Homo sapiens: one gene and its partners. The protein of the gene in region 2 binds, or shares a complex with, the protein of the main gene of each other region. Links are inferred from orthologs where the notes say so. Each region holds a gene or a part of one and is shown on either strand. Other genes may lie near its edges. The genes, in order: MAGI2, DDN and WWC1.

The links.
Region 1: the proteins of DDN (region 2) and MAGI2 are in contact, whole or in part, in a crystal structure (PDB 6KKG), measured with the Mus musculus proteins. The link is inferred for Homo sapiens from one-to-one orthologs. Residues at the interface, in NP_001013763.1 of Mus musculus: Asp222, Arg223, Pro224, Pro225, Pro226, Tyr227, Val228, Ala229, Pro230, Pro231, Ser232, Tyr233, His237, Arg238, Thr239, Leu240, Gly241; in NP_001164217.1 of Mus musculus: Glu308, Met309, Ala310, Tyr311, Thr312, Glu313, Gly315, Tyr318, Ile320, Asp321, His322, Lys325, Thr326, Thr327, Ser328, Trp329, Asp358, Tyr361, Tyr364, Val366, Asp367, His368, Arg371, Arg372, Thr373, Gln374, Phe375.
Region 3: the proteins of DDN (region 2) and WWC1 are in contact, whole or in part, in a crystal structure (PDB 6J69), measured with the Mus musculus proteins. The link is inferred for Homo sapiens from one-to-one orthologs. Residues at the interface, in NP_001013763.1 of Mus musculus: Tyr227, Val228, Ala229, Pro230, Pro231, Ser232, Tyr233, His237, Arg238, Thr239; in NP_740749.1 of Mus musculus: Glu13, Glu14, Ala15, Arg16, Asp17, Tyr23, Ile25, Asp26, His27, Arg30, Thr31, Thr32, Ser33, Trp34.

What each region holds. Positions count from the first base shown.
Region 1 is NC_000007.14:79,450,356-79,458,732, reverse strand, and holds the start of MAGI2 (membrane-associated guanylate kinase, WW and PDZ domain-containing protein 2), read left to right. Parts: upstream 1-5,065; 5' UTR 5,066-5,412; coding exon 5,413-5,713; exon of another isoform or gene 5,714-5,776; intron 5,777-8,377. UniProt on the Homo sapiens protein: Seems to act as a scaffold molecule at synaptic junctions by assembling neurotransmitter receptors and cell adhesion proteins. Plays a role in nerve growth factor (NGF)-induced recruitment of RAPGEF2 to late endosomes and neurite outgrowth.
Region 2 is NC_000012.12:48,996,376-49,004,104, reverse strand, and holds the start of DDN (dendrin), read left to right. Parts: upstream 1-4,729; 5' UTR 4,730-4,817; coding exon 4,818-5,026; intron 5,027-5,414; exon of another isoform or gene 5,415-5,438; coding exon 5,439-7,365; 3' UTR 7,366-7,729. Other genes in the region: PRKAG1 (5'-AMP-activated protein kinase subunit gamma-1), read left to right, coding at 183-348, 510-547, 815-961, 1,099-1,206. UniProt on the Homo sapiens protein: Promotes apoptosis of kidney glomerular podocytes. Podocytes are highly specialized cells essential to the ultrafiltration of blood, resulting in the extraction of urine and the retention of protein.
Region 3 is NC_000005.10:168,286,929-168,294,801, reverse strand, and holds the start of WWC1 (protein KIBRA), read right to left. Parts: upstream 3,158-7,873; 5' UTR 2,650-3,157; coding exon 2,531-2,649; intron 2,097-2,530; exon of another isoform or gene 1-2,096. UniProt on the Homo sapiens protein: Regulator of the Hippo signaling pathway, also known as the Salvador-Warts-Hippo (SWH) pathway.

The DNA of each region.
Region 1 (8,377 bases), on a different chromosome or scaffold from region 2:
ACCAGGCTGGAGTGCAGTGGTGTGATCTCGGCTCACTGCAACCTCTGCCTCCTGGGTTCAAGCGATTCTCCTGCCTTAGCCAAGAATTCATATTAAAGCAGTCGTCATTTAATGAAATTTTGGACACCCTCACTTCAGGCACATCTGCTATCAGGCAAAATTCTACTCAGCTTTTACACTGTGTCAGACAATGTGCCAGACACTAAGAATGCAAATAAAACATAGAACCTGAAAAGTTGTGTTTCTTCAAAGGATACATGGAGACATAAATAAAAGCTGTGTTGATAACAGAAATAAGAGTCATAAAATGCTTCCAAGAAAGAAAGTGGGCTCAGAGGTATTTCTTTCAGGGTGAGCAGGTGTAGACCAGGGAGGGAAAGAGTTGTATTTCAGGCAAACACAAGCCATGAAATGGCCTAGTGAGAGAAGGAAAGTAAGCCGTTCAACTCTGGAAGAAGTAAAGGGTTGAAAGGAGAAGTGAAGACACAGGCCTGACCCTTAGGTAGGACCCCTGGCTCAGCTGTCCCAGTCCCCAGACATGGTGGGAGATTGACTCAAGTCAATGTACCTTACTGCCCTTACCTGAACATCATTACATTTCAATGTTGAAATTCCTGTTTTTAATTATATTCCAAGGGACCTAGAATAGATGGCATAAAGGGGCCTCCTTTCAGTTGTGTTAATCTTGGAGAACCCACATTAGCTTTGTTGCCCTGGGTTCCAATCTCAGAAGTACATGGAGAAATATGGCTGAACAGTTAAAAAGGGTGGAAAGGAGGATCCAAGCAAGATAAGGAGTTTGGACTTTGCTGTGTATTTCATGGGCGGCACTGGGGGGTTTTAAACACAGAAAAAAGGAGAGGTTTCAGAAAGGTCTCTCTGGCATCACAATAGAGATTTTTGAGGTAAAAGACAGGGAGAAAGAAAAACAAACAACAATAATCGTGGAGTAGTGATATTGACAGACTGAACTAAGAAACAGTGTGGATAAGAAACTTTATGCTCTACAGTACTGCAGTCAGCAGAATAATGGTCCCTCTAAAAAAGGTACCACAACTCTATCTCTTATTAGTAGTGTGATTTGGGGCAATTTAAAAGCCCTGATCCTCAGTTTCCTCATCTGTAAAAGAAAAAAAAAAAAGAATAGCAATGTCTTAAGTCAGGATCCCCAGGATCAAACCCTGAGATGAAGATTGTCTGCAAGTGATTTATTATAGAAATGCTACCAAGAAAAACTCATCAGGTACCACAGTAAGCAAGATAGGGAAGAAGGTGGTTTCAGGCAAAATATTAACATCAATATAATTCTATAGGGGAGCCTCAGGGTGTAAATTACACCTCAGGTTTTCTTGCTACTAGAGGCAAGACGGCTGGTCTTTTATACTCTATAGGAAAGTCCTTGGCAAAGGGTATCCTGGGAAAGAAGTAAACTTGCAGGTGGTTCTGTCTGGCTCTCTATGCCAGTACACAAAGTGAGTCTAGTAGTGTTTGGGCCTTCCTCCAAAGAGATTCTCGGGGCAGGCTGTGAGAAGTAAAAGAACACAGAAGCTAGAGGAAGGATACTCAGATTCAACCAAAGGGATCCTAGGAGATCTGGGTGGAGACTATGTCTGCCACAAGCATCTATCTCATAGAACTCTTCTAAGAACTGAATGCATTCATATCTTTCTTTCTTTGGCTTTTAGGATTCCTAAACTATTTTTCTTCTGGAATAGCATGCAATATTTAGCACTCTGCTCTACACTCAGAGTGCTCAGTGATGAAATAATTTTTTCTTGACATAGCATCAAATCCAAAAAGGGTAAAGGCAGTGGAGAAATTAAGCGAATATGAGGAATACCATAAGAGAAAGAAAAAAAATCTGATCCCAATTTCTGACTCCAAGGATAGTGCTTTCCTCAGGGTTCCACTTTTATCAGTTAAGATCCAGTCAAAGGGTATTGACTATTAGGACAGGAAAAAATCCCACTAAAGAATACAGTAATAGTGGTTATTGGGAACAGCCACTATCTCTCAGGCTCTAGGAGAGTACCCAAGGAGGGAATAACTGAGTAGAACTTCCCCCTACCCACCCTCCACCCTACTAAGCCTGAAAGTAGGCGCTCATTGGAAATAATATGGCTGTGGTCCACTTAATGATCCAGAAATTTAAGGTGTCACACACTGGGCTGCTGAGGAAACCATCAGCTGTGTTTTCAGTAAAACTTGCTAGGAAGCCATTCCACTGACATGCCAGTGGTACTCCATAGAAAGACACATACTAGGGAACTGGCCAAATTTACTGAAGATTATGTAACATGGCCTTCTTGCACACCACTGGTCAGAAAGTCACTCACTGGCCACCACACCGTAGGAGCAAGCAGGAAAGCACTGGAACCAAGAAAAGGAGCCCCTTTCTTTCTGCAGTGTTCCCCTAGCACCTTCTATTGACAAAGCTAAACACTGTGCCAACTGACCATAAAGACGTTTACAGATTTCAGCTCTAATGTCACAATTTAGGGCAAAGAAGGGTAGCTGTGAAGTTGAAGAGCACTAAGTTAACTGGCACTGACCTCAGTGACACTCCTGGGATTTGGGGGATGGGAGGAGCATGCTGTTATGCCCAAATCCTGCTCCGTTTGTTTACTTTTTTCCTAATTGTCTCTGAAAGAAAGAGCAGGCCCAATCTTTTGGGACACTATGTAGTGAGAACTGGTATGACACATCGTAAGTGCACAGAGAGTTCAATTCAGTAACTGAGACAAAGTCTAGAGCCGAACCACTTGGGTCTGAACGTTAGCTTCACTATTAACAAGATTTGTAGCCTTGCAAAAGTTCATCCTTGTATACCTCAGTTTCCTTACCTGTAAAAGGAGATAACAGTACCTATTTTATCAAAATGTCAGGAGAAATTAAGTATTATGTGTAAAGCCTATAAAACAACATCTTGCATGTAGTTAGAACCTAATAAATATTAGTATATTCCATGAATGGTAGCTTGTCATTTGGTTTTACAATATGTATATATTCGGTTCTCATGATGAGTTTCCATTTAGAACTATGCCTCATAATGCTAACACTCAACTTCTCTGGGTGAGATTAGGCTTTGCTATCAAGTCTTGCCTACTCCTGGGCATTGCCTGCAGCTCTGGCTTCAGATCCTGGCACTGCCCCTGGCTCACTGAATAAGCTTCAACTAGTGCAGCCAACTTACGGAGGATCTGTTTTCTCAAGTGAAAAAAAGACACAAGGTTAAACAAATCATCTTTTTTTAAGATCTCTTCCAGTTCTGACTACATTTGATCCCCCTCATCCCCAAGTAGTAAGTTATACCTAAGAGGGAAAGAGGAGGGAATTATCATTTCGAACTCCTACTCACCTGTGCCAGGAGAGCACTGCTGTGACTGATTTCCCTGATTTCATCCTCACCACAGTCCTAACAGATTAGTATTGTTAAAGTCCATTTAACAACTAAGAAAGCTGAGGCTCAGGAAGGTCAAGCAGTTTACTCAAGATCATATTCTCAGTAAGCCGCAGAGTCTGGATTGAAACCTGGTCTTTCTGTTTGGGTCGACTCAACATTTTTAACCGTATTGTTTGCCTCCTACATCGCCTTCATCTCAGACATTAAGAATCCTACCTATTCAATGCTTTTCATCCTCCGCTTTAAAGAGATAAGTGGGTGCACAACTTTTTTTTTGCCTGAAACATATCATCTAAAAGTTAAGCAAATGAAATTCATTTACCAGTTACAGGAATCTTTTTCTTAAATCACTGTTAATGTCTCACAGGAAATTAGCTCTTCAGTGGAAATCAGCAGCCTCCCTGCATCCTTTTGCCCCTGTCCTCCCCTCTCTTGGATGCAAACCTGGCGAAAAGAAGGGAACACTGCTTGGGGTCAGCGAGCTGAGTTCCAGCTCCGAATGTACCATTTTCACCCTCGGGAGTCTTCTCCCCTTTCTCTGTGAGCAAAGGAGTGTTGGGCCAGACCGTCTTAAGGATTCTTCCCCAGGTACAAGCCGGACTCTGGCGGCTTTCCTGGGCAAGGGAGTGTCTCCGCCTTGTCTCTGCCGCAGGTCCCTGGTTAAATTGTCAATTTCTCTGCGGAGGCTGCTCACTGCATCCGCTCCCTCCACCCCTAGCCCTGTAGACCCCTTCTCTTTCCCCTACTTGGGAAAAGTGAAGCCCCTTATCCTTGGATAGCCTTTCACCAGACAACCGCAGCCGTCCGCTAAATTCCCCTACTGGCGGGACGCGCGGGCGGGGGCCTGCCCCGGGGAATGCGAGGCTGCTTCCCTTCTGCGTAATCAGGGTACGCAGCCTCCAGTTCTCTAACTTTCTCCTTCTCTAAGAGGGAATTTCGAGAACTTTAAGACAAATAAGTGACTATATAGATGAAGACATGAAACCTCTCTACACAGTGAACTCCCCCACGCTACAAGGCTCCCAGGGATCCCAGGCCTTCTCCCGCAATGCCCCGCCGGGTCCCCCGCCCCAACTCCTTCTCACGGCAGGATCCCGCGCCAGGACGCTCGCAGAGCCCGAGATGTGGCACCAGGCGCGCCACAAGTCCAGGTCCCGCTATTTCTGCTCCATCGGAGCCCAGGTCGGAGGGAGTCAGCGCGTCCTCCTCGCACAGGAGCCTGGCGCGCGGCTCGGTCGCACAGAGGCTGAAGAAAGGTCCGCACTGGGCTCGAGGCCCTTCCTGCCGGCCTCCCCACGCCGGGCCTAGGCTCCCCTCCTTCCCGGCTCCCGCCTCCTCCCGTAGGCTGCCAGGCGGACCCAGCCTGCCTCTCTCTCTGCCTTCACTACCGGGTCAAGCTGCGGAGGGAGGGAGGGAGGCAGCGGCGAAGCCCTCCGTGGCTCCCCACCCGGCGCGCGCGCCCCTCCTCCCCTGCCTCCTCCCGTCTGCCAGTACAGTAGAACTAGTACACACACACACACACACACACACGCACACGCACCCTGCCACTGCAGCTGCCATGGATATCAGCTAACAACACACACCCAGGCGCGCGCGCGCGTTCCCACTCGCACCACGCAGGAGTGGCCCCCGGCATCCCTACCCTCCTTCCCCACCCCCACCACACCCGCTCACCAGCTCGGCTACTGCTCGCTCCGGCTGCCGCCGCCGCCGCCGCCGACGCCACCACCACTGCTTCCTCTGCTGCGGGGCCACAGCCTTGAGTGTCATTCAAGGGACAGCACAACCTCATCCAAGCTCTCCTACCTCTGCCCAGCCGTCCCTCTCATCCTCCCCATTCCTCGTCCACACTCCATCCAAAGAAGAGGGAAAGCACCGAATAGAGGGGGGCGAAGGCAAAGTCTGCTGTTCTTCCCCCTGGGCCCCCTTGCTCCTCCATCCTCATTCTCTCACCACCAGCCCCCCTAACCCCAAGGAGCCCAGGAACTGAGGCGACTCGCCCCACTGCCATGTCCAAAAGCTTGAAAAAGAAAAGCCACTGGACTAGCAAAGTCCATGAGAGTGTCATTGGCAGGAACCCGGAGGGCCAGCTGGGCTTTGAACTGAAGGGGGGCGCCGAGAATGGACAGTTCCCCTACCTGGGGGAGGTGAAGCCCGGCAAGGTGGCCTATGAGAGCGGCAGCAAATTGGTGTCGGAGGAGCTGCTGCTGGAGGTGAACGAGACCCCCGTGGCGGGGCTCACCATCAGGGACGTGCTGGCCGTGATCAAACACTGCAAGGACCCCCTCCGGCTCAAGTGTGTCAAGCAAGGTGAGAGCAGCGGCTTGCTCAGTGTTTTGCCGGGCGGTGGGACCGCTCGGGGCGCAGGGCAATGAAAGGGTGGCCGCGCATGTTGAAGGGGGTGTGTTGCGCGATGATGGGGTGGGGGCCAGAGAGCACCCGCAGTGCAAGTGAGTTTCGCCGGGGATTCGACTTGGGGGCTAAAGGGAGGGGAGGGGCAGGTTGTGGTGTGGCGTGCAACTTTGTTTGCTCAGTTAGACCCTCCCCTTTGGAAGGTGCTCGGCCTGGTCTGACCTCCTCAGAGCTGCTGGGGCAAATTGAATGTGCGTCAGTGGCATCACCCGAAGCGGATGAAGAGCTTTTGGGGAAGGGAGGAAGGAAGAAAAGAAAGAAAGAATGGGAGGAAGGGAGGGAAAGAAGGAAGGAGCAACTTCAGGGTGCAGCGGCATCACCAGCGGGTCTGGGAAGAGAAGGTGGTGGGGTGAGCGGAGAACTGCGTCCAGCGTTTCTGGGGCTGGGCTGGGGGCGCCTGGGTCCCCAGCTGTCCCTTAGGGATCCGTGAGCCACCGCTGGCGAAGAAAAGAAGGGACAAATTGCTTTGGGCGCTTTGACGGGTCTTCTGTAACTTTTCCCCTTCTTCACTCCGTGTCCCCCTCCCCCGCTCACGGTCGTGTCATGTGGGCATCGCGCGTCACGTGCGTACTGACTAACCCCTGCGCTCACCCCTAGCCAGCCCGGGGGAGGAGGCTCCGGAAGAAGGCGCGGTGCTAGGAGCGCAGTCTAGTGCTGGGCGGGGGTCGGAGGAGATGAATGGTTGTCGGAGGAGATGAATGGTTGTCCGCATGGACTTTACTCAGGGGTTGCCCTCATTGAGTGGAAGTCCTCTGTGGTTGGGCTCTCCTCTGGCTCCGATTTGGGGGGCGTGTTTTGGGGGAGGAGCTGGATGAAACCCTGGCCGGTTCCAGCCCAGGCTCCCTCAGCTCCAACCTGACTTAAATGAACCTCAATTGGAGGCTGTGATGTGGATTTGGGGAGATTGGAATCATCCAGAACTCCCTGTCTTTGCTCGAAAGAAAATTATGGTGCAGAAGGAGAGAAGAGTGAGATAAAAGTTTGAATAGAGGACAACTTTAAGTAGAATAAAGTAGTAGCTTTTTTCTTTTCTGTTTTCTTTTTTAGCTCACTGCACAATTCGTGTGCGGTATGTATGGATATTTGCGTCACAGGCATATTAGCATAAGGGTTTGTTGTTGTCGTCGATGTACACTGTTTGTCCTGACTCAAAGGTGGAATTGAGCATGTCATTACCTGCATTTTGCCGCTTAATCATGATCAACTACTAAGAAATGCTTTTACGGAGATGTACCGCACTGTTAAATTATTCTCTAAAAAACTTGTTTTAAAATAAACAAGATAAAAAGAAGTACTGGGCAAGGTTTCTTAAATGTAAATTGCCATACAAGAAAATGTTTTCCTTGGGTATTCTTGAGTATTAAGAGGTAATAAATTGAGATAGGTTATTATAAGTCAACATAGCTCCATACTATTTAACACTGAAGGGATATGAGTTTGGTAGGAAGGAAAATAGAGTAACTTGATATTTTTGAAGATAAGATACCTAAGGTTCAAATACAGAGATTCATGTTAACATGTTCGATGTCAAAATACCACCTTATAGGAATAGACATAAATGGAAAGATCTTTGGGTACGAAAAGTCTACTACACAACTAATGACCATGGTTTTGTTGGCCAAATGCTTGATATTTGTCATGGAACGTGGCTGCAAAAGTTAAGCGTTGTTAAATTGGACTTAATAGAGTCCCACAAACGGATGCCCTATTATAGTTTGCAATGATCATCACATCTTAAATGTTGTGTTCAATTCTGAGCACTCCTTGTTGAGGCGGACGTTGGCAAACTGTCACGCTAGCAAAGAGTAAGTTCAAAAGAGAAATAAAGGAAGATTATTGTGTATTATAGATGTATTCTATGAAATGCCGTGGAAAGACTTAACGTGGAGAAGTGAAAGAATGAAAGCTATCATTAAATAGCGAAAAGCTATCAGGTAAGAAAAGGAATTCTGACTATCCTGTGATAGCCCACAGGACAAAATGGTGATAAATCTATGAGAAATTTGAAAGGATGAAGCAGCTTTACTTTCATTAAATCATGAGCTTTCTAACAGAGTTTTCCAAAAATTTGTGAGCACCCTGTTGGCTGAAGTTCCCATCATTGTGGGTATCCATGAAGAGGCTGAAATGACCATATGCCAGGGATTCCTATATAAGATGAGGACCTGGATTAGATATTATTTGAATCTTGCCATAATTTGATCTAATGTGGTTGGAGATCACTCTTGTATTGAATTTTATGTGGAAGATTATTGCTTTTAGAACTCAGAATATATGCTTCTAAAGTGATATATTGAGGGGAAAGTCTCTTTTCATTCTATATTAACCCTCAGTTTCGTGCTTCACTGGTTCATTGATGATAAATTTGTATAATGATAGCCAGAGAGCCCACAGTTGGTTCATCTCCTGAACCACTGCTGACCAAAAACAAAACAAAACAAAATATTTCTTTTACCTTTTGTGGAATAATTAATTCTCTTGTATATTCTTTTAAATATGATTCATGTTGCTATTCTAATAATTCTTTTCCTCGTCAAATCATAGATTAATTTTATTTATGAT
Region 2 (7,729 bases):
TTGCCCAGGCTGGTCTCGAACTCCTGGGCTCAAGCAATATGTCCCCCTCAGCCTCCCAAAGTGCTGGGATTATAGGCATAAGCCGGCGCACCCAGCCCTTATTTCTAATATACTGGGTTGGAGGGGGTATCCAAGGGTGGCTTTGGGTGCCTTGAAAGTTAAGCTGATGGTTCTTTCCTCAGATCACTGAGTTCCCCAAGCCAGAGTTCATGTCCAAGTCTCTGGAAGAGCTACAGATTGGCACCTATGCCAATATTGCTATGGTTCGCACTACCACCCCCGTCTATGTGGCTCTGGGGATTTTTGTACAGCATCGAGTCTCAGCCCTGCCAGTGGTGGATGAGAAGGGTGAGAGATTGGGCAGAAGGAGAGGGAGGGAAGATCCAGGCAAGTCAGGGTGGCTCTGGGAAGATCTGCTTTCCCCTCAGCTTAGCCAGGAGGGTGATTCTATGAGTAGGGGGAGCTTTAGATCCCAGATCCTCCTTACTGAGCTGCCTCTGTCCCCCTAGGGCGTGTGGTGGACATCTACTCCAAGTTTGATGTTATCGTGAGTGATTGTGGAGGGTCTGGGAGGTAGGGAAGTGGTGGGGGGGGGGCACTGTTAAATATGGAGAGGGAGAAGGGAGTCTCTTCTGTGATCTAAGGGTCTTAGAAGCTTCCAGGCTTTCAAATCCTATTTGAAAAGGAATTGAATGAGTTGGGTGTGGCTTGTGGCTGACAATTGCCCTGAATCCCTCTGTTGAGGTTGGATGGGTTCAGGGTTTGGAGGCTGGCTCTCTTGCTTCCCTGCAAGCTCCTTCCTCTGTCTCCCCAGAATCTGGCAGCAGAAAAGACCTACAACAACCTAGATGTATCTGTGACTAAAGCCTTGCAACATCGATCACATTACTTTGAGGGTGTTCTCAAGTGCTACCTGCATGAGACTCTGGAGACCATCATCAACAGGCTAGTGGAAGCAGAGGTAGGGAGGCCAGCAACCCTAAAGGAGCTGAGGGGAGCAGCCTTGAGAGTGGGGTTTGGCAAGGAGAGTAGGGGCAGAGGGGCTTCCCCTGAGGCCAGCACTAAACATTCCCTTTCTCCCTTGTTGCTCTGTGCCAGGTTCACCGACTTGTAGTGGTGGATGAAAATGATGTGGTCAAGGGAATTGTATCACTGTCTGACATCCTGCAGGCCCTGGTGCTCACAGGTGGAGAGAAGAAGCCCTGAGCTGGGGGAAGGGGTCATGCAGCACCAGGGGATATGCCCAACTCACTGCCTGCTGGAAGCTCTGTGGGAATCAGATGAAACTTGAGGGAATTGTGACTCTGTTCCCTGTTCAGGGTCCCCTGCCCTTCTATCTGGGAGCTAGGGAAGGTATGGGGGAGGAAAGAGAATGGATTTATAGCTACCCTTACCCTCACACATACACTTGAAAAAACTTTCAGCCTAGCCAGTTCTAGCCCCTGTCCTCTTAGATATATCCCCCTTTCTGGGTGAACTATAGGCTCTGTGCCTCTCAGACAAATTCTGATCTCTAAGAGATCCCCAGACCTCACTTGCCTCTGCCTCCATCTTGGCCCTGATTCAACCCTAAGATAATAGCACAACAAAATTCTTCATAAAGATATTTTTATTCACCTGTTCCGTGCTATATGGAGGAGGCCAAGTCCATTTAGTGACATTTCTTCCCATAATGTGAGTGGGGAGGATTGTGGGGAGGAGGGGCTTTGGGTTCCTGTGTTTGTGCATATGAAGGGAGATGGGGGTTAGGTGGAGGAGGAGAGCAGCGTGGTTAGCTAAGGTTATTGCTTTTTGTGGCAAATCTAATTAAATGACAGGAATCTCTTCACGATATTGCAGTGTTTGATTTTTACAGTTGATGGGTACTACCTTCCTACTTTATATGGCTTCTTCAACTGGTCATTAACAATAATAATAACGTGTGTACGCACACACACACGTACACACACACGAGTAGACAGACTTGAGGGTCTCCTTTGGGCAGAGAATCCTGCCACCATTATCAGCTTTTCTTAGTTGGGGAAGGTTGGACTGTTTGGCTTTTGCTGAGTTGGCACTATCTTTTTTTTTTTTTTTTTTTTTTTTTTTGAGATGGAATCTCACTCTGTTGCCCAGGTTGGAGTGCAATGGCGCAATCTCAGCTCACTGCAACCTCCGTCTCCCGGGTTCAAGTGATTCTCCTGCCTCAGCCTCCTGAGTAGCTGGGACTACAGGCGCGCGCCACCACGCCCAGCTAATTTTTGTATTTTTTAGTAAAGACGGAGTTTCACCCATATTGGCCAGGCTGGTCTCGAACTCCTGACCTTGTGATCTACCTGCCTCAGCCTCCCAAAGTGCTGGGATTACAGGCATGAGCCACCGCACCCGGCCAGCACTATCTTTAAACCTACAAATCCCTTGCCTCTTCCAAGGTGAGAATGAGCTGGATGGTGGGAGAACAGCAGGGCAGTGGTCACTCCATCAGATCCATTCCCTGTATTGAAAGCATGTAGACCCAAACAGCAGTCAGCACCCAACATCAGAAGAACTGCTAGACTGGAGTATGAGCTAAATTTGGGTGCCAGCTCACCCCAGCCTTGCAGGTATGATACAGTTTCCCATCCAAGCCAGGAGCAATTTCGGAGTCATTCCTTGCCCCTGCCCCACAGTGCCTAACCCCTCTGATAACCCTCCAGCCAGGGCATACTGGGTTCTCCTGATGGAACACAGGGAAAAGCATCAAGGCCCTCATCAGATTCGACCTGAGGAAGCTTATTTTAAAAAAAGAAGGTGGCCCTCATCAGAGCTCAGCTTTCAGTGTTGCATCATGGCTGTGGAGGAGCCCCTGCTTCTGCCTTCACCCCTTTACAGCTCTCACAGCACATTCTCAACCTTGGGGGAGGAAGGCTTCCAAGTTATTAGAATTAGAGTATGTTTATGTGTCAGGAGGGTAAGCACATGGTGGAAAGGACAGATGGCCCCTTATGTCACATTCCCTCATTAAGGAAGATTTGCCTAGGGAGGAGGCAAGGGCTTTAAAAAGCCTCAGGACTCTAGTGGGACCTAGGGTGGAAGGAAGCATCTTCGAGTCAAGTCATCAGTGCAGCTGGCAGGTGTGTGGAATCAAGGGGGGTAGGGTGGATGGGACGGGATGTTTGCGTTCTCTCTAAAGGTTTGTGTTAGGGAGCAGAGACCTGGTTTTGTTGAGTTGTTTCTCAGTCTGTCAGTCTCTGCCCCACAACCTTTCTGGTTGTTCCCCATCCCCTTAAAAGGAAGGGTCTGGACCCAAAGGGCTCCATGTACATTAGTGGAAAACTAATTGGGAACTCTTGCTTCTCCCATTTCCCTCTAAAACCCAACCTATCCGTCTCAGTGTGAGGATGAAGCTGAGGGAGAGACAAGGGATGAAATTTGGGAGACTCACAAGCTTCTATTCTTACCTATTCCTCTCCAGAGAGGCAAATTATCCCTTCTTCCCGAGGAACCATGCCCCACACACTCTCCCCTCTCTCTGCACTGCTCCCCTCCACTGAAGCTGCTGCCATGGTTGCCAGGCATGGTTGCTAAGTCTCTGCATGGAAGGGTTGGCGTGGGCTGTGCTGCCACTAACATTACCATGGTGAATCAGGGGACACCTGGTATAAGCTTAGGAGGAGGGATCATGTGGATATAAGCAACAGCCCCCCAGGACAGAGGCAGCCCAAAAGGTGAGCATCTGGAGCACCACTTAAGGTGGGGACTGAGTGAACTAGGCATTGTGGTGGTGGTGAGGGGGAGTTCTACATTGAAAAAAATAAAGGCCACTTTTATCATTTCAGTTGCTAGGGGATTAGTTTTGCCAAGCAAACACATCATTTCTCCTCCATCCCCCTCTGGAAGGGTGAGAGTGCATAAGCACTTACTCTGTCCTCCATAAAGCTGGGCAGGCTGTGTGGGCACAGAACAATATAACCCCCAAATCCTGGCTTCTGGATTGGAGGTGAAAGCCTGCTGCTGTGGGAGGGCTCCCTGGCTGCCCAAGGACAAACATGTAGAATGGAACTGGTAGGGCAGCTTGGGTGGCCAAGGCAGACGCCTGTGTCCTGCTGTACCAGCAGTCCTAGGCTGCAGCACTGAGCTGACAAGGAGATACGGGTGTAGGGGTCACCCTTTTTGAGCTTAGGGAAGGCAGCTCTCCCTCAGAGTCGCACAAAAGCTTGGTAAAAGCCACCGCCTCCTCTCTCCACCGCATGGGAGCTGGTTACTCATCTCATCTCTGCACCCGAACAGCCACTGCCGCTAAAAATAGCCCCCCAGCCGTGGGCCAGCCCCTCCTGCACCCCAGCCCCATGGAAACCAGCAGAGTGGCAGGCAGAGACCTTGAGTTCCAATCTCATCACTCTATGTTGGGGAAACTGAAATCTGAGGCAGGAAGCCAGGGGCAGAACCCTGGTGGTCAGGCAACCTGACAAGCAGGAGAGTAAAGGGTTAAAACGGCAGGAAGGTTGAAGAAATAGGGGCGGGGGAGGGGGCACTGTCAGCTTGGCAAGAATCATAAGTCCCTCCCCCGCCCACTCGTGCGATCCCATCAGGCTTGGGGGACAACAGCAGTGGGAAGGGGCGTCCAATCCCGGGCCCCAGGGGGCGGCCGTGCACATGGGGGAGGTAGCAGCGCGGAGCAGTCCGCGCGGTGTCACATGCGCGCGCACACACAGAGACAGGCACACACACGTGTGCCCGGGTATATATAGTTCCCAGTCCCCGGGCCCGCGGCTCTGCAGTGGGCGCCGGCTCCCTGGGCTGGGAGGGGGCTCCTGGGGCGGGTGGGAGGGTGGGGGGCCGGGGTGGGGTGGGGCAGGATGCTGGATGGCCCACTGTTCTCCGAGGGGCCTGACAGCCCCCGGGAGCTCCAGGATGAGGAGTCTGGCAGCTGCCTCTGGGTGCAGAAGTCCAAGCTATTGGTGATAGAAGTGAAGACTATTTCCTGTCATTATAGTCGCCGCGCCCCTTCTCGACAGCCCATGGACTTCCAGGCCAGCCACTGGGCTCGCGGGTTCCAGAACCGCACGTGAGTGAAGCAGGGGTGAGGGGAAGAGAGTGGTGGGGCGGGGAGTGGGGTCCGGACCTCCCCGCAGGCACCAGCGAGCACTGCTGGTCCCCCTTCTCTTTCCCACGCCTTCCACCTCTGCCCGCTCCCGAGGGCTGGGGCCTGACTCATCCCGTTGTTTGGGGGAACAGAAGTGGGTGTGAGAAAGGGCAGGAGGTGAGATGGGGCAGACGCTGTTAAAGTGTGCATGGAGAGATGGCGAGGAGTCCCGCTTCGACTTCAGTCCTAACATATACGCACGTGCACACGCGCACACACTCACACACACCCCTTCACATGGCTGCCCCAAGTGGTCTCCAGTGCTCCCAGCTCCCCGGACCTCGGCTCCCTTCCCCCACAAACTGCTCACCTGGGTTCCTGCTCATTGTCCCAGGTGTGGGCCGCGCCCGGGATCCCCACAGCCGCCGCCCCGCCGGCCCTGGGCCTCCAGGGTGCTGCAGGAGGCGACCAACTGGCGGGCGGGGCCCCTGGCCGAGGTCCGAGCTCGGGAGCAAGAGAAAAGGAAAGCGGCGTCGCAGGAGCGGGAGGCCAAGGAGACCGAGCGAAAAAGGCGCAAGGCTGGTGGGGCCCGACGGAGCCCCCCGGGTCGACCCCGCCCGGAGCCCCGCAACGCCCCTCGGGTGGCCCAGCTGGCAGGGCTCCCTGCTCCCTTGCGGCCGGAGCGCCTGGCGCCTGTGGGGCGAGCGCCCCGTCCATCCGCGCAGCCGCAGAGCGACCCAGGGTCGGCGTGGGCGGGGCCCTGGGGAGGTCGGCGGCCCGGGCCCCCAAGCTACGAGGCTCACCTGCTGCTGAGAGGTTCTGCCGGGACCGCCCCACGACGCCGCTGGGACCGGCCGCCACCCTACGTGGCTCCACCTTCTTACGAAGGCCCCCATAGGACCTTGGGGACTAAGAGAGGCCCCGGGAACTCTCAGGTGCCCACTTCATCAGCCCCAGCTGCGACTCCAGCCAGGACAGACGGAGGGCGCACAAAGAAGAGGCTGGATCCTCGGATCTACCGGGACGTCCTCGGGGCTTGGGGTCTCCGACAGGGGCAAGGTCTCTTGGGGGGATCCCCAGGCTGTGGAGCGGCCAGAGCAAGGCCAGAGCCCGGCAAGGGGGTCGTGGAGAAAAGCCTGGGGCTGGCTGCTGCTGACCTGAACAGTGGTAGCGACAGCCATCCCCAAGCCAAAGCTACAGGGAGCGCAGGCACCGAGATAGCTCCTGCGGGGTCTGCAACTGCGGCTCCCTGTGCCCCGCATCCCGCTCCCAGATCCAGGCACCACCTCAAGGGCTCGAGGGAAGGGAAAGAAGGAGAACAGATCTGGTTTCCCAAATGCTGGATTCCCTCCCCTAAAAAGCAGCCGCCCCGCCATAGCCAGACACTCCCCAGACCCTGGGCTCCCGGAGGCACCGGATGGAGAGAATCTCTGGGTCTTGGAGAGGGGGCAGGACCGGAGACCCTGGAGGGTTGGAAGGCGACCCGCCGTGCCCACACCTTGCCCCGCAGTTCCCAGGGCCTGTCCCGTGGGGAAGGCGTCTTTGTCATTGACGCCACGTGCGTAGTGATACGATCCCAATATGTTCCAACCCCCCGAACCCAGCAGGTGCAGCTTTTGCCCTCTGGGGTGACACGCGTGGTGGGGGATTCCCCCAGCCAATCGAAGCCCGGCAAGGAGGAGGGTGAAGGGGCCACGGTCTTTCCTTCCCCTTGTCAAAAGCGGCTGTCGAGCAGTCGCCTTTTACACCAGCCCGGCGGGGGCCGCGGGGGCGAAGCTGAGGGCGGGAGGCCGGGGGACTCCACACTGGAGGAGCGCACTTTCCGCATCTTGGGGCTCCCGGCCCCCGAAGTAAACCTGCGGGACGCCCCCACGCAGCCAGGTAGCCCAGAGCACCAAGCCTTAGGCCCAGCAGCTTCGGGAGCCCAGGGCAGAGCCGAGGGGTCGGAAGTGGCGGTGGTCCAGCGGCGCGCCGGCCGGGGCTGGGCGCGGACCCCAGGGCCCTACGCCGGGGCCCTGCGAGAAGCCGTGTCCCGTATCCGCCGCCACACAGCCCCTGACTCGGACACGGACGAAGCTGAGGAGCTCAGCGTCCATAGCGGCTCCTCTGATGGAAGCGACACAGAAGCCCCGGGCGCCTCCTGGCGGAATGAGAGGACCCTGCCCGAGGTTGGAAACAGTTCGCCAGAGGAAGATGGGAAGACAGCGGAACTGAGCGACAGTGTCGGGGAGATCCTAGATGTCATAAGCCAAACCGAGGAGGTCCTCTTCGGGGTGAGGGACATCAGAGGGACCCAACAGGGAAATAGGAAGAGGCAGTGAGAGGCCCCTTCTTGTATTTGTGTCCCCAACGCATCCATCCTTGGGTCCACTGGTCCCCATTCTTCCCCACAGACTTCCTTTGCTTCTCTTTTCCTTGTATCTTTACCCATACCTGTTCTCATCCTTGAAATATAAATGAAAGGAAGGGAAGCATATGCCCATTAATGATTTTGTTTCAGGAGAGGTGAGAATGAGCAGATTTAATTAATGTCTGTTATGTTCAGGGCACAAGGGTGAGCTCTTCGCAGGGGCTGATGCACTGGGTGTGGAGCTGAGCAGAGAGGCCTAACCAGGATCAGGCAGGAGGGCAGGGATGGTGGCAGCCATAGGAGGGCAGGGTAGGGTAGGGCCTCTGAGGAGGAGG
Region 3 (7,873 bases), on a different chromosome or scaffold from region 2:
TACAAAAAATTGGCTGGATGTGGTGGCGTGCACCTGTAGTCCCAGCTACTCGGGAGGTTGAGGCAGGAGAATCGCTTGAACCCAGGAGGCAGACTTGCAGTGAGCCAAGATCGCACCACTGGACTCCAGCCTGGGCGACAGAGCGAGACTCTGTCTCCAAAAAACAAAAACAAATAAACAAAAAAACCAAAAGCAAACAAAAAAACCAATGACACAAGATGAAGAAGGTGAGCTGCTCACCTAAGTGCCACTATGTTTCTGCCGCCTCTCCATGGCTTGCCAATCTGCTTAAAAACAAAGGCTGGGCAGGTGAGGTGCTGTGGCCTTAGGCTGGCCACAGTACCTAGCTAAAATATACTAACCCTGGTTTTTTGTTTTTTTTGTTTGCCTATCTTTTTTGTTTCCCCTGTATGACAATAGATATAACTAGTTTCCCATTTGTGAAAATGGTACACATATTTTTAAAGTGAGTTGATCTAAAGTCAAGGAGTAAGTAAGCAATAGCACAGGTGGATATAGCAAAAAAAAATCATGGAGGTGGTCCATGTAACACTAAAATTTGGGAGATTGTGCTCCAGCCAATCAGTTCTTCATAGAAGCTACTTACTTACCCTTTTCCAAGGGTAAAGAATTACTGTTGAGAGGGGCCTCCTATTGCTGTATTAGAAGTCCCCAGATGCATGATTATCAGTGTTGGCAGGGGCGGTCCTTTCCCTCCAACAGGACGTCCACCTGCTAACAGCACACAGGCCTCCGTAAACTACAGGGACCTAAATTGGGGCAGGTCACATATGTTTGAACTTGTGTCTGTTCTGAGAAAAGGACAAGAGAAAAGGTGCTGCCAAGTTCACCAACACAGTAGCAGAGCTGGCAACTGACCCGAGTAAGGGTGGGGAAGCAGTGTGTCAGGGTGACAAGTTTGCAGGTTAGAACTTCAGAGCTGGTGAAGAACTGGTACGCAGAATGGCAGAAAAATCAAAATACTTGAGCAAATCACACCTCTGGGCTTCAAATTTTCTCTTATGTTTCAAATGGGAGTTGGGCGCTGATGTACGTCCCTTCCAAGTTTTAAGCATCCCAATATTCCCTTCCAAGCAAACTTTTTAAATTCAGGGAAATGGTGGGCTCCCCCATCTGACAAACAGGGAAACTGAGGCTCAGAGGTTGAAGCAGCTTGCCTAAGAGATGCTCTCTAGCACTAAATATTTACCTTCCAGATTACATTCATGAGACATTCAGCATGGTGCTGAGTGTAGAGGAGGCATCCAGGAAGCGCTGAATGAACGAATGAATGAATGAATGAAAGTAAGTGCTCCCAGAAACTACCGAGAATCTCAACTCTCATTTTCTTTCCGCTTATATTCTTTTTTTGACCCACATCTTGCTACATACACTTCTGGGACACCTCCACCCCCACCACACAAGATGAAGAGTCCAAGAAATTCACCTTGGTTGCTTTACAGGGACCTGACCCCCAAGGTCACAGACAAGGTTTAAAGTCCGCATTCCCCAAGACACTCTGCCCACAGACCGTGTCAACAACATCGTGGTCCGGGGACTCTAGGACATACATGGAGAGGGTGAATGTATGTGTGTGTGTGCAGCATGTGAGCAAAGAAATGCCAAACAACCAGGAGAAAGTCTGGAGAGGTAAGAGCCACACCGAGCTATCTCAGGCTCCATCTGCCTCTGCACATTATCTCAACCTACAGCGGCCTGGTACCCACCAAGGTCAGGTCCCGCTGGTGCAGGGCTGAGGAGCCTCGCCGCCCCCTTCCCCGATCAGGGAAGAAAGAGAGGAGAAAGAGGCGAGGGGCAAGGCTTTCCGGGAGGCCTCTCACCTCCATCTCCATCCTAACAGCTTCCAAGTTGCTGCCAGATTCCTGGATAACCAGTCTCCCTCATCTGCCCTCCCCCGCTTCTTCACTTCCTCCCCACCCTCGGGTTCCAGGGCCCCCTGGCTGCCCCTGTGCTGTTCTCAGCAGCTTCCAAGGCACCTGTCAAAAAGCACACCTCAGGTTGCCTTCCTCTGCGCCGAGTGCCCTCTCTCCAGTGGTCTCCCACGGAATCCTGGGGTCTTGACCACCCCCTCTAACCGGACACTTCCCCATCCCCATCCGCCCACCCCCCACGCTGGGTGGAAGCCTCCCCGGGAAGACCCGGCTTCACCCGGCTAGGTCGCTCCCCCAACCCCCGCCCCCGCCCGACCTCTCTTCCTAAAGGGGGCGGGCGGGGCTAGAGCTTAAGGTCAAAACTCCGGGCAGGTGCCGGCTGGGGCCTAAGTCCTCCAACTGGGGATGGCGGTGGGGCAGCCTGGGCCAGCTCCCCGGCAGGCGCCTCCTCTCGGTGGCCCACTGAGGCGGGAGCAGCGCTCCAGAAGGTTGGGGGGAGCAGGGGGTGGCGAACTGAAGAGAGCTCAAGAGGCACGCAGAGCTCCCCTGCCCCCTCCCAGTCCCGGCCGGCGGCTCCAGGGGCAGGTGGGGGCCCAGGCGGGGGTGTGGGGGCACGGAGGAGGGTTCCAGGGTCCTACCTGTCCCGCGGGTCGATCCAGCTGGTGGTGCGGTTCGTGTGGTCTATGTAGTAGACCTTGCCGTCGAAGTCGCGCGCCTCCTCCCAGCCCTCCGGCAGGGGCAGCTCCGGCCGGGGCATCTTCCCAAGCGCTGCCGGCGCTCCCCCATGCAGCTCCCGGCCGCAGCGGGGGCTCAGCGGCTCCAGCCGGCCGCTCTTAGCCCGGGCGGCCGCCGAGGCACCATGATCCGGGGGGTGGCGCCCGCAGATGGGGGGCCCTAGTAGGGGCCGGCCGGGGTGGCGCCGCTGTCCATGCGGCCCTGCAGCCCCGACCCGGCGCCGCCCGCTCCTCCCGCCGCCGGCCTCTCACGCTGCCATGTGCGTCCGCAGCGGCGCGGTGCGAGCCCGGGTGCGCGCCCAGCCGGCCGGGCAGAGCGAGCCGAGCGCCGCCGCCGCCGCCGTCTGCCCTCCTCCGCCGCGCGGCGCGCTGCGCCCTCCACGCCGCCGCTGCCGCTGCCGCCTCCCTCCTCCCTGCAGCCGGGTGCCGTCCCTCCTCTCCGCTCCACCGCTCTGAGCTCGCCGGGTTTGTGACTTCTGCCTCCGCCAGGTGCGGCTCGGGCGGTGCAGGTAACCGCGCTGCCCCGGAAACGGGAGGCGGAGCGCCGGGCGCCTGGGTTCCCGGGTCCCCTCCCCGCGCGCAGCGCCTCGAGGGCGGGTCCTAGGGCCCGAGACGCGCCCCCTCGTGGGACAGTCCCAGCCGCCGGCCACCCTTACGCTGCCCCTGCCAGGGGAAGGAGAGACCGCCCCTCACCTGCGTCCCAGACCTAGGGGGCTGGGCCAAAAACCGCTCTGCCTGTACTTAAAACGCTCCTGTCTCTCTCCACCCGGAGTAGCCAGGCTCTCGGCACAGGTGGCCCCAAATCTTAAAAACTCCCTGCTTTTCTGTGGTGTAGAATCAGGAGTCAGGCAAGAAGTGGTTAAATGGAAACATTCTTGCGAATTGGGAAACATAAGTTTTCCAGGATCTCTGGTCCCTTCCCCCAACACAGGCACCATCTGTCTCCTTCTATTCAACTCTCCCTACGACGTTTCGCCCACCCTCCACCCTTCCCCACCATTTGGAAATGTAGCTGGCTCCCCTCAGGGTCCCTAAAATTAGGAGCGCTGTGGATCCGCTTTCCTGGGAGGACTTCCAGAGGGTGTCAGGGAAAACACTTTGTAAAAGTAATAGTAATGCCATTGTTATTGTTAGCTAAATTGAGGACTTACTTGTGACAGGCTGTGGCTAGCAGCTTCACAGGCTTTCTTTCCTGTGATACTTTGAGGTAGGTGTGTTATGGATTTGGGAGAAGTGGGGCTATGAAAAAGAAGAAAGTAAGCAAAGCAAAATTCCATCTTGAAAAATGTTCAAGAGAATAAAACAATCAGAGACACAATGTTTCTTGAGAAATTAAAAATGTAGAATTAGTGGGTGCGGTGGCTCACGCCTGTAATCCCAGCACTTTGGGAGGGTGAGGCAGACAGATTACCTGAGGTCAGGATTTCAGACCAGCCTGGCCAACATAGTGAACCCCATCTCTACTAAAAAATAATAATAATAAATTAGCTGGGCGTGGTGGTGCACGCCCGTAGTCCCAGCTACTCGGGAGGCTGAGGCATGAGAATCACTTCAACCTGGGAGGTGGAGGTTGCAGTGAGCCAAGATCGCACCACTGCACTCCAGCCTGGGCAACAAAGCGAGACTCTGTCTCAAATAAATAAATAAATAAATTTAAAATGTAGCATTAAATACAAAAAGCAAGCTAGCATGATTGAGTGAATGATCAACTGGCTGTTCACTTCCCCATCTCCTCTTACATCTGTGTACTGAGTGGGAATTTAACCCTTTTTTGCCCTCGGCATATGGCAGGAAGCTGGACTGGTCGAATGAAGCCCAGTTGGGTGTCTTCTCTTGCCTGAGCCCCACGGTCTTCCAGAAGAACCAGCACCCTGTGCTGTATGGACCAGGGTGTTGCTGAGCCAGAGAGGGAATCATGTTTGTGGTCTCATCTCCTCTTGACAGAAAAGACCCACCAGAGTGAGCCTCGCCTCCAAATGCCTTCTTCATAGTTAATTCCTTCCCTGAGGCCAGGCCTCGGGGCTCAGTGCTTGGCCCTCCTTCATTCCATAAATACCAGGCACCAGAGTCCAGGGACACCAGCCTCAGACTGGCCCTCAACACCCAAAAGTTGGAATTCCCCATTCCTTTATGGGGGAATTCCCACAGCCCTCTACACTTCCTCTGTTTGGGTCAAGCCTTTACTACATAAAAACCCACTATTGATTAGAGCAGTAGCCCCAAAGCAAAGCCAACCTGGTGCTAGGTTCTTTGAATACATGATCTCAATCTTCATAACAACCCTCTGGCATAGGAAAGTCTATTTATTATACCCATTTTACAGATGAGGCTCCAAGATGCTTTGTTGTTGGCCTGGGATACAGAGCTCATAAGACAGACTAGGTCTGACTCTAGTGCAGTGTTCTCAGTTATTAACCTATACTTTCTTTTTTTCTTTTTTTGAGATGGAGTCTCCCCCCATCCCCCAGGCTGGAGTGCAGTGGCATGATCTCGGCTCACTACAACCTCTGCCTCCCAGATTCAAGCAATTCTCCTGCCTCAGCTTCCAGAGTAGCTGGGATTACAGGCCTGCGCCACCACGCCCAGCTAATTTTTGTATTTTTCAGTAGAGCTGGAGTTTCACCATATTGGCCAGGCTGGTCTCGAACTCCTGACCTCAGGTGATCCGCCCACCTCAGCCTCCCAAAGTGCTGGGCTTACAGACATGAGCCACCTTGCCTGGCTGACTTTCTTTCTTTCTTTCTTTTTATTTTTGAGACGGAGTCTCGCTCTGTCACCCAGATTGGAGACTTTCTTTCTTTTTTAAATCACTCTGCAGCCTCAGAACTTCCCCATGGTTGGGATGTGGAACATGACTGATACTGACAAATGTTCATCTCTGTTGATGTTTGCTTCATAGTTTTTTGGTTGAGAAGCAAGAGCTCTAGAATCAGGCTGTTTGGGTCCCAAGCCCACCCGGTTTTCTAGCTGTGTGACCTTGGGCAGCTTGCTTCACTGAAGTCTCAGTCTTTGATTTGAAAAAAAATCACATAACAATATGGACTCCTTTGGGCTTGTGGTTAGGGCAAAGCAGGAGGAGAAATGTGAGGGCTTGGCACTCAGCAGCACGCCTTCATCTCAGGGGCTGTGGTGCGGTGCATTCGGAGCACCGTGCCTGGCAGCAGACACACCTCTATGAAATGTGGACCATTTGAAGTATTTTCTGTTCAAAACACAAATCCACGTCCTTTCCCCTTCTGAAAATTATGCCTGCTTGCTTGCAACAGTCCTCCTAATTGCTGATTTTTTTTTTTTTGGCCTTATTTTTCAACCAAGCCTTTTTACTGGTTGGCATTGATTGTGAAGAGAAAACACCTTTTAGACTGCCAAGTCCCACTTTCGTTTTAGTCCAGCCACCCAAACCCTGGCATTTTCCAAATGGCTTGCTTCTTTGGACCTTTTGACCTGGCCTGGGAAGCAAGAAAGAGAGACCAGAGCAGGAATTGACTCCTGAATTAAGGCCTAGGTCTGTTCGCTCTTTTTACCTCCCATCCACCCCCAACGAAAGAATCCCAGGTTATCTCGCAGAAGCGGCAAGCAGGGTGAGGTAATAAAACAGATGACTGCCTGCCCCATGTGATGGCGCGTGAATCATCCCGGACATTCTGCGAGGCTGAGGGCAAACGTGAAAGAGATTAAAGGTAAAACCGGCTCAGCCACATGATAGGCTGAATTGGACGTTACTCTACAGGTGACTGAACTGCAGGAATCCGAACTGAAGACAAGAAGCCCAGCCCTCTCCTGGCCACCCTCCTGGGGCTGCGTCTGGCTGCCCGCGTGTGGAGTTGAAGGAGACAGGCTTGGGCAGTGTTGGGCAGTGCAGAAGTGACCACAGGCCAAGCCTTTCTAATGACAAAGGCCACATCCCGGTGGCCCAGAGGAATCACCTGAGCCTGAGACAGGCTGTCTTGTTTTTAAAAACGATGCGCACTTGAACCCTTTTCTCCACTGCAACTGCAGGGAAGAAAGGCCGTTATCCACACGTGTTTTAGAGTGTTTCAGAGAGCCAGAGTCACATATTCCATGAAGATGGTAAAGAGGAGAAATTAAATATAAAACAAAGGAACAGATATGTTAGCAAGTCCAGTTTCCTGTTCGCATCTGCATTCTTCAGGGGAAACTGAGGCTTTGAGAACCTCTGCTGAGATTTTGCTTCCTGCTCCATGACTCTACCTCCCTACCTCATGCCGTCCCTCCCACACATCCTGGGGAATGCACAGTTATGTTCTATGATGGAGCCAATAATGTCCCCTTTCTTGAGTCATGCATTATTTGAGGTTCATAAATGTACTGTGGACTCTTTTTTTCCAATGATGGGAAAACACGTCCTAAGCCAGAGAAAATGAGGGTGGAAGAAACCTTGGTAACACGAGAGCCGAGGCAGAAGAGATGGTTTTTTATTTACCTCTCGGTCCTCCGTGCTTAATTCAGTGCTGGGAAATCAACTGAAACAAGTCTTGCACAGCCTACTCATTTTACAAACAGAGAAATGGAGTTTGTGTGAATAATGATTTACTGCCCTAGTTCCTGCTGGTTCCATTTCATAGATGAGCAAACTGAGATTCAGAGAGGCAAAGTGACTTTTCTGTAGTCATGTAGATATCAACTTAGCTGCTTCTAGTGAGTTTTTGCTTCTGGACTCCCAGTGTGGGCTTTAGAGTGCCTGTGAAGGAGAGATTTCAGGGCCATGGTCTGGTTGGGAAAGGAGGTGGGGTGGCCAGGAGACTCTCCTTAAACTCCTACTTATGTTTGGGTTGTGCGTCTATTTGGAGTGGATGGAGGAGGCCATGGAGGTTGATGAGGGCATGCTAAAACTGGTCACAGCTGAGCTGACAATGAGAGGGCAGAGTTGAGGTGGGGTTCTCAATTCTAAGAGGAGGAGATAGTGCCCTGATCCCCCATTGCCTGCCCAGTGCTGTCCACAAGACCCCCCAAGGGGATTGGTGTAGGGGATTTCACAGGCTCAGCGGTCTCTGTGGGAAGAGGGGTACTTTTCTCCCTTTGTTGCCTGTCTTTCCTCCCCACTTGTTTCCTTGCTGGTTCTTTTTATTTATTTATTTATTTATTTATTTATTTATTTATTTATTATTTTTTTTTTGAGACAGAGTGTCACTCTGTTGCCCAGGCTAGAGTGCAGTGGCGCAATCTCGGCTCACTGCAACCTCTGCCTCCTTGGTTCAAGCAATTCTCCTGCCTCAGCCTCCTGAG